Linked DNA regions of Homo sapiens: region 2 is linked to region 1. Evidence: fine-mapped expression QTL. A gene starts in region 1. The other region holds a variant in brackets. All regions are shown on one strand. Distances are between the middles of the regions. Region 1 holds the start of HSPA12A (heat shock protein family A (Hsp70) member 12A). Region 2 holds the start of LOC105378498 (a long non-coding RNA gene).

Evidence for each region. PIP is the estimated chance that this variant, and not a neighbour inherited with it, causes the effect. A credible set is the group of variants that fine-mapping cannot tell apart.
Region 2: its variant is the best candidate, but not a certain one, in a credible set for the expression of HSPA12A in unexposed skin (GTEx, PIP 0.86).

Annotation. Positions count from the first base shown.
Region 1 is chr10:116,740,058-116,744,437 of GRCh38, reverse strand. It overlaps HSPA12A (heat shock protein family A (Hsp70) member 12A), which reads left to right and starts at 1,872. Exons shown (of 12, transcript NM_025015.3): 1 at 1,872-2,008. The coding sequence starts at 1,969. RefSeq lists enhancers at 599-1,302, 1,303-2,007 and a silencer at 1,558-2,007.
Region 2 is chr10:116,772,963-116,777,342 of GRCh38, reverse strand. LOC105378498 (a long non-coding RNA gene) reads left to right here and starts at 3,343. Exons shown (of 3, transcript XR_946339.2): 1 at 3,343-3,791. It also overlaps a transcript of HSPA12A not described here. RefSeq lists an enhancer at 1,968-2,467. The variant C/T (reference allele first, on the strand shown) is at 2,251.

The DNA.
Region 1 (4,380 bases):
CTGCTGCTTCTGACAGGCTGTCAAGGCCAATGTCCTGATGCCCTGGTCTGATGGGGAGGAACGAGTGCCTTGAGGACACTGAGGAGGGCCCCCCTGGCCAGCATGGGTATGCAGGGGAGCCTTCCTGGAGTTGGGCAGTCCATGATGAGAAGGAGAAGTTCTTAGGTTGCTGGTGGTGGTGAAATGAGAGGACGGGTGATCCAGGCATCAAGCACATTTTCATGTCTTTGAAATACCAGCATAAGAGAAGCAGGGGTGGGTGAGAGGGATTGAAGAATCAGAGCGGCTGTAGCTGGAGCTGGAGTAGGGTGGGGACAGACCAGATCACAAAGCATGGACTGAAGGGGTGAGACAGGAGGGCGGGGGAGCTGTGGGCAGGCTGTCGCAGGCACGTAGGCAGGAAGGGCCCTCGGGGGCCATCAGTGACTTAATGATTTTTACCATGTGCTAGATCCCAAGCTAAGCATGTTACATGCATAGTCTATCTAATCTTCAGTTTTATGAAGTGGGTTCTCCTGTTATACCCATTTCGCAGATGAGAATATTGAGGCTCAGATAGGTTAAATAACTTGACTGTGGTTTCATGCACAGCCAGGAACTGTCCATTTGGGATTTTTAATGCAGGCAGACAGAAGACAAGTTTTGTGTTTTGAACTTGTCACTCTGCCATCACCTTCTGGTCTCCAGGCTCTCGCAGCAGCTCTCTGCCCATTCCGTCATCCATAACGCTCTCGCAGCAGCTCTCTGCCCACTCCGTCATCCAGAACGGGATTGTACGATGAAGCCTCCCCTAGGTGATCTTTGGGAAATGCCACCCATCTCTGGAAGTGAGGGATGCTGGTGGTTACAGCTGGGTGGGAATCCCAGCTCCGCGACTCACCTGCTGGGTGTGATATTGTAACCCTGCCGATCCTCAGCTTCCTTATCTGCAAAATGTTAGTTATGGGGAGGAAAGGAGATAGAGGTAAAGCACCAGGCAGGTAGCACAGTGCCAGGCACCCGGAAACGACCCAGTGACGGTGCTCCTCGGATTCCTATTACTGCCCTCGTTTGCCAAGGCAGGGTGGTGACACCGCGGACCCAGGGGGTGCCTGGCCAGGCCCAAACAGGTGCCAGCGGCGCGTGTGTGTGGAGGAGCTGGGGACAGGGAGTATGAATCATTCACAACTGAAGCCTTGCATTATTAATATCGTTATTCTCAGACTTCTAAGGAGGGCCCAGCTGGATCCCATATATGGAAGGCGCGACTCAGCCTCCGGGGCAAGCACCTCCCTGGGTCCGGAGTTGCCATGGAGTCCCGCAGGCGGCCTGGAGGCGGTGCCCCGGGCTCGGCCCCCGCGCAGGTCCTTGGTCTGCGGCCTGGGTCCTGCCCGCGCCGGGGTCCACCCAGCCCGCCTTTGCGCCGGCCCAGGGCCGCTCCCCTGGGACCCTGGGGGACAGACAGAAGCTGGTGGGGACTGGCGCGGGCGTCCTCGGGAGAGCGCCGGGCGCGCTGGGCTTGCTGAAGGGCTCCAGGCCTGGCCATTCGGTGACTTCCAAAGAGGGGACGCGCCGCGGGGCCCCGAGGGCCTGAAATCCGCTCCCGCAGCGCAGCCCCGGGCGCGCCACTACCCCCGCCGCGGTCGACTGCGGGGCGACCGCTCGGTCCCGAAGCCGGGAGAGGAGAGGCCGGGCCTCGGCGGGCCGCTCTGGGCGGGCGGGGAGCGCAGCTCCGGAGCCAGGCAGTTCCCCGCGCCCGCCTTCCCCGACCTTTCCCGGCCGGCCCGAGCTCGGAGGGGCGGGGCGCCGGGCGGGCCGGGGCGGGGCCCGGGGAGGAGCCGTGGCTGCGGCGGCTGCCGCGTCAGAGCAGCGCTCCCGCTGCCCGGCGGCTCAGACACGGCCCGAGCGCCGCCGCGGACGCGGACAGAGACCCGCACGGGCACGGGCGCTGCGCTGGAGGCTCCCCTCGCGGTCCGGGGCTGCGCGACCATGGCGGACAAGGAGGCCGGCGGCAGCGACGGGCCCCGAGGTGAGCGCAGGCTGCGGGTCCTGCGGCCGCGGCTGGCGGGGCAGGGAGGGAGGAGGCGCGCTTGGCCCAACGCTCCGCACCCCCTCGCGCGCCGTGGAAAAGTGGGGACGCCCGCGCTGCATCCAGTTCTGGCGGGCGGGGCCGGGGTCAGCAGCAGCGGGGCCGGGGGCCGGGGTCCGGTGGACCGGAGACGGCCCGCGGGTCACATGTTCTGCGCCCCGCCAGGGTGCGGACTCCGCGGCGGGGACTGCAGCCCCCGCTGAGGCGCCTGGTTGGTCCCTGCCTCGGGTGGCGCCTCCTGCGGGGCTGGTCGCGCGTGCGGGTGAGGACCGCCCCGCGTGTGCAGCCCCCGCGCGATGGGCTGCGGAGGCCGGCGCTGGCTGGGTAAAGGGCCCGCCGCCGGGTGGCCGGGTGGCCCCAGCGGGTAATTTTCGTGACTCAGCGAGGCAGGAGTGGGAGCCTGGGGGAAATCGGAGATTTGGACCTGTTCCCTCGCCCCATCCCACCCCGGCCGGACGCTCGAGCCAGGAGTGGGGGCTGCAGCTGCGGCCGAAGGGCTTCTCACCCACCTCCCCGCCCATCCCCAGGGACTCACTGGGCTGGGGAAGGGTGAAGCGGCGGGGGTTCGATGGTCCCTTCCTTGCGGGGGGCAGGGGGAGGCACCCAGTGCGGAGGACAGACGCTCGCATTTTGCAGATGTGCTAGGGCCGCTTTCTTTGGGGAGCGTGATTAGGGCTCCGAAGGGTGGGGGAGCCGGAGAGGACGGGGAAGGGGGTTGCGGGAAGAGGACGAGCAGGTTTCGGAGCCCAGGGCTGTAAATCAAGGCTTCTCCCACGGAGGGCCCGGCTGGCCAGGATTCCAGTCTTCCTGTGGGTCCCAAGTGGGGAAAGTTGGGCGCATGGAGGCGCCGCGCGTCCCTGACCTGCAGGGCCTCGGCGAGAGCGGCCGCCGGGGAGAGGAGCGCGGCCCAGGCATCTTTCCCGGGAGCGACAGGCAAGCCGCCTGCGAGGATGATATTAAAATGCCGGGACGCAAGGGAGATTCAGCCACGAAACGAGCGCTTGGCTCTGCGGGGCCCCAAAAGCTGGAGAAACTGAGTCCAGTGGCAGCACAGCCACCATCTGCGCTGGGTTCCCTGTCTTGCTGTCGGGCCTGCGGCCCCCACCCTCTGCTGCACTCCAAGCCGCACCTGCCCCCACCCCAGCCCATTGTTCCTGCGGATCAGGGAGGTGCCTCCCCACGCGGCACTGCAGTGGTGGGGGAGTGCAGGGTGGCGGGTGGGGGATCCTGACAGGGCTCACTCCAGGGAGAGGCAGCGGAGAGCCCAGGCCGTCCCCAAACACACACCCAGTCCCCGCCTGTACTCTTCCTCAGCTGGTGAACGCAGGCAATGGACTGGCAGCTGTCTTTGTCTGAACATCACTCAGCAACTGGATTGACTCTTTTTTTTTTTTTTTTTTTTTTTTTTACTTTTTTCCTTTAAGTCAGAAAATAAAAAAATTTTTAGGACGATAAGTAGGGGCGTTGAATTGCTAAAGCCTGAGAATTACTGAGCCAGTTTCTTGCCTCTCATGCTGGGATAGGGTGGGCGATGATACCAAATACAAGGTTGGGCATAGGATTTGTCAAATCAGAAGTGGGCAGGAATGTGTACCCACTCCCCACACCTTTCCCAACACTGTTTTGTCTTGTAAATCAAATTCAGCACCCCTATCCTAACACACACACACACGCACACACACACACACACACAGACACACACACACACACACACACACACACACACACACACGGTGCTGGGAGAAATCCTGTCCAGGATGGGGACACCCATACCTGGTGTGCCGAGCCACCTGCCACCGCTCTTCTGCGTTTGTTCTGGAGTATTTGTTTCTTCACTTCCAGTCATCTCCAGCTCAAGGTGGCCAGTGAGAATTCCAGGTGCATGGACTTAGGACAGAGACCAACCTGAAGAGCGGGCTGTCCCTGGCAGCTCACTGTGCCTCTGGGCACCTCTCCCTTTATCTGTAAAATGGAGGATGTGAATAGTATTGCATAGGAGCAGAGTTGGCTTGCCCCTGGCCCCTACACTTATTTCTAAGGTTTCCTCATTGCTGGGAAAAGAGCGTGCATTATTTTATTGTTTTAAAGGCTCACAACAAACCTGTTACCAGCATTCTCCCCTTCCTGGGTGGGAAATCCAAACACAGGTTGAGTGACCTATCCAAGGTCACACATCTGGGAAGTGTTGTTTGGGACCCAGGCCATCTGATTCCAGGGCACCAACCTGTGCATACAGCCCTTATGCATGTGTGCAGTGGTTACCACTCTATTAAGGACATAAAAAAATGGTTGTGCTTCCTGGGAAGGATTTC
Region 2 (4,380 bases), 33 kb before region 1:
AAAGATACTGTTTTAAGTCATTTCTTTTATTATTTAGATTATTTTGGTTGCTTGTCAGTGTGACAGGCCATGCCTGAGCTGTCCATGTAAAGTTCCCAAGGGGCATAAATGGGAGACTGCAGTGCAGCCTCAGATGTGGGGGGACCACCCAGTGCCACGCGGCAAGAACTTAACACCCGGGTGTTGACGAGGCAGGGAAGAAAAGGGGCGCATCTGCAGCTCAGCGCCCCTCCAGCCTGGCTGGCGTCTCACACTACTCATGTCAGAGAACAATTCAGCGGGCTACACAGGAGCCATGGTCCACCCAGGAGCTTTCTTACAACCTCCTTCCCCTGTGCATTGCTTCCTTGATGCTTCTGCAGTAAATCAAATTAAAAGCAAACTTGAACCAAGTCCAGGTTGTCAATATCTCCCATTCTCGAACCTAGTCCAGATTCCTGGTACAGACATTAAGCATCTTATATGATGCCTCACATCCCTAAATTATCATATTTGCATCAAACTTTTAAGGATATACATCTAAAATACATTCTGAAATAGTGTTTATGATTCTAATTAAGATTACATTAAGCCCAGTTTTTAGAGTTTTAAGCATTGTATATGGAGTTAACAATTAAGAAAATAAAACTCATGTATTTTTAATTGCTCTTATATTTTGATGCTCTGTGGCATCCACTGAATCAATGGCTTGAGTACTTCAGGGAAGCGGTGGATTCTGCTACAATAATAAATTCGTTGTTCACTTTGACGATCAAATTAGGCTTTCCATTTTGTTTTGTCTTCTAGGCAAAACAATAGTCTTGAATGCCGGGTTTTGTTAAGAAAAAAAAAATTTTCTGAATTCCAAAGCTTCTTTCTAAATATAAGGAATCAATCCCGGCTGATTTTGAGCGTAGAGTTTTACTGTAAGCCATAAATAGAAGGAATTCTGGATACAATGGAAGTGAGTTCCTGGGAGACAGGAAGGCAGAGGAGAAAGCACTATGCTTTGCCTGGGAGAGGTTTGTTGGGGGTGAGACCAGCGGGAGGAAGCGGCCAAGAGCTGGAGGCTGCTTTGAGCGAAATCCCGAGGCAGAGGGGGGCGTCCAGGCGGACGGACCTGAGATGCTCCTTGTTGTCCACCCATGACACCTGCCTGTGTCCCACAGGAGTCCCAGGGGTGGGCCACAGAGGTGCTGAGGCAGGGAGGGGGTGAGGTGGTCACCCAAAACAGGGACCTGGGAACCAGGAGCAGTGGCACTTGTCTTGGGTACTGGGGGGCAGTCAGCTCAGTGGACAGAGACCAATGGGATGGGTCACTTAACTGGAGGCCAGAGGGGACGCAGAGGATGGCAGGTAGACCCAAAGCCCCTCACTCACCACCAACGTGAGGCCACATTAACTTCTTTTATGGCACTCAGCTGCCCCCAGTCTAGTCCCTGGTGGAGTCACATAAGAGAGTCTGTGCCAGGCTGGGGACCACAGTAGAAGGCATAGCTCCCCAGCTGCAGGAGCCCTCACAAGACCCCAGGGACAGAGAGGTCATAGGGGCTGCAGGATTAGGCCAGGTCACTGTCTCGGGGAGGAGTTGGGAAAGGGCTTGAAAGCCCCCTGTTACTTCTGTGCCCTGATGTCCCCAAATCCTCTGGCCCCCTGGCCTGAGTGTTTCCTTTAGCAAGCAAATGAAATGGCCCCAGCACCTTCCCAGCATCCGAGCACTGAGGAAAGTCAGGGCTCACCCAGCACTCCTGTGGGGAGAGGCGGGAGGTCCTTCTTCCATCCCCTCTCATCGGGTGCCCTGAAAGTCAGTATCACGAGGCTGTCAGTGGGAACAGACAGAACTGACCAGGAAACAAACTTCACGGTCAATGTTAGATTTCCTGTTTCTAGAAAATACATTGGCCATTTCCAGCTACAGAGACTCCCTTCCCAGGCTGCCCACTGGCTGGCCCCCGTCCTCCCCAGGGCTCTCTAGAAGAGACAGTGTGGGGTGACAGAGAGAGCTGGCTTTGCAACCGGACAGGCAGGAGTTCAAATCCCAGGCTCCCGTCTCACTGGCTATGTGGCCCTGTGTGACCCTGGGATCTTTCCTTCCTGAGTCTCAATTCATCCATCTGTAAAATGGGAGTCCTGAGGCCCTATCCATAGGTTTGTGAGTGGTGGGATAACTGATATAAGGAACTCGCACGTTCTTAGTACAGAATCAGCACTTGGTAAATGGCAGCAATTGCTGCTATTGGCTTCTGGCCCAATCCCTTGGGGGCACCTGTG[C/T]CAGGTGTCTGGGAGGACACTAATAAAGAGTGACTCAGCAGAGACAGCCACAGGATGGGCGGGAGGGAGCAAAGGAATGCTGGAGTCCCCCAAAGCAGCACAGTTGGGAGCAGTGGCGGTGGGTGTGTAGCAGTCGACCTGGGGCCCTTGGGGAGGGAGTGGAGTGACAGGATGCCAGCTGGACCTATGCCATGGCAGTATAGCCAACACGAGGGGCTGGTGCAGGAGCCGGCAGGACTGGGGCCTGCAGGGGCCAGGGTGGAGGGCTCCAGGCTTGTGCAGCCTGCAGGGTCAGGGTGGAGTCAGGCCAGGGCCACGTGGGCAGGCATGGGACTGGGGGAGGAGCTTATTCAATGGTGGACCTGGGTTTTCTGGTGGGTGAATGAAGGGGTGCACAGAAGGCCTCCCTCTCAATGTCCCACTCTCCAATCCTTTCTCCTAAGAGATGGATCTGGGCCATGAACTCCTGCTCCAAAAGGCCAGTCCTCTAGCAGAGCCACGTCTGTGAAGAGACCCAAGAGCACCATTGACATTTCTTTATTCCAGGGGTTCTCACACTTTGGCAAGAGTGTGAGATGTGCAGTTGCTGGGCCCTACCCAGAGTCTCTGGGTCAGTAGATCTGCCTTGGGGCCTGAGAATTTGCATTTCTATTAAGTGCCCAAGAGTTGTTAATGCTGCTGGTCAGGGACCACACTGGTCAGGGACTGAACTAGGCATTGGTGCAGTATCACCTGGGACCCTCGCAGAGTGCTCTATGGCAAATATTTCAAAAAAGCCCTTGCCGGCCGGGCGCGGTGGCTCACGCCTGTAATCCCAGCACTTTGGGAGGCCGAGGCGGGCGGATCACGAGGTCAGGAGATCGAGACCATCCCGGCTAAAACGGTGAAACCCCGTCTCTACTAAAAATACAAAAAATTAGCCGGGCGTAGTGGCGGGCGCCTGTAGTCCCAGCTACTTGGGAGGCTGAGGCAGGAGAATGGCGTGAACCCGGGAGGCGGAGCTTGCAGTGAGCAGAGATCCCGCCACTGCACTCCAGCCTGGGGGACAGAGCGAGACTCCGTCTCAAAAAAAAAAAAAGCCCTTGCCACAGAGCAGGTTCCCCCACCCCATGTCATAGTGAATGCCACTCAAGACCAAAGAGGGTAAGTAACCTACCCAAGGTCATTCAGCTGAATGGTGGCATAGTTATCATTTGTAATTAGGTCTCCTGGCTCCAAGTCCTCCACCCCGTCACCATGATAATGACCATTGTCAGCATCATCACCATCATCGTCATCATCATTACCACAGGCACTGTGAGCTCCCTGTGGGCTGTTTTGCAGCTTTGCCCCTGCCCAGGACCAGGGACCAGCCAGAGCTTCATAATTGTCAGCTGAGTGGAATCCCTTCTTGGGGCAAGTCAGTGAGAAAGACTTTCTCAGGCTGCAGTTGACAACCCTTGGCTGAGGCCCCCACTGTGAGCTGGGCAGGTTGGCCAGGGAATAAGGAGGAGGAGACTGCTTACTTAGCATCAGTCAAGGTTGAGGGGCCATGGGCCAAGGTGAGGTTCAGAGGTGACAGAAGGGAGGCAGAACTGCTCCCTGGTCATGTTACCTTCTCGAAACCCGCTGGGAGCTGCGAAGGCAATTGTCACTCTCCAGTCTGGCTTTGAGTGACGCACAGCTCCCAGGCCTCCTGTCCTGTCTGCCCGCTAGGCTGTTGTTGCCTGGGGGTACCAGACCAGAGCTGAGGGTTCTGAGAAGGAAATGCAATTTGCTGTTGGTGTACCAGGCCTTCTTCTGTGCTACCATGTACTGCTCAGTGGACTGAAGCCTTTGCTCATTAGCAGGGCCTCATCCCAGGCCAGTTCATCCTGGGCCTCTGGAGGGGCTGGGGAAATGCCTGGGCCCACCTGGGCCTGCTCTTGCCTCCCTGGGACCTTGCCTGCTGTGCAGAGGAAAAGGAGTGGGAGGAAGGAGGGCCCAGGGGGAGTCAACGGGAGCAGCTGGGGCTGCAGTTGTTTGGAAGTCCCCTGGCTCACCCAGACTTTTAGTCTAGCTAGGGTCCCCGGTCCTGACTGAATGAGCCCCTTCTCAGAAGAACCACAGGTGGCCAGGTGCAGTGGCTCATGCCTGTTAATACCAGCACTT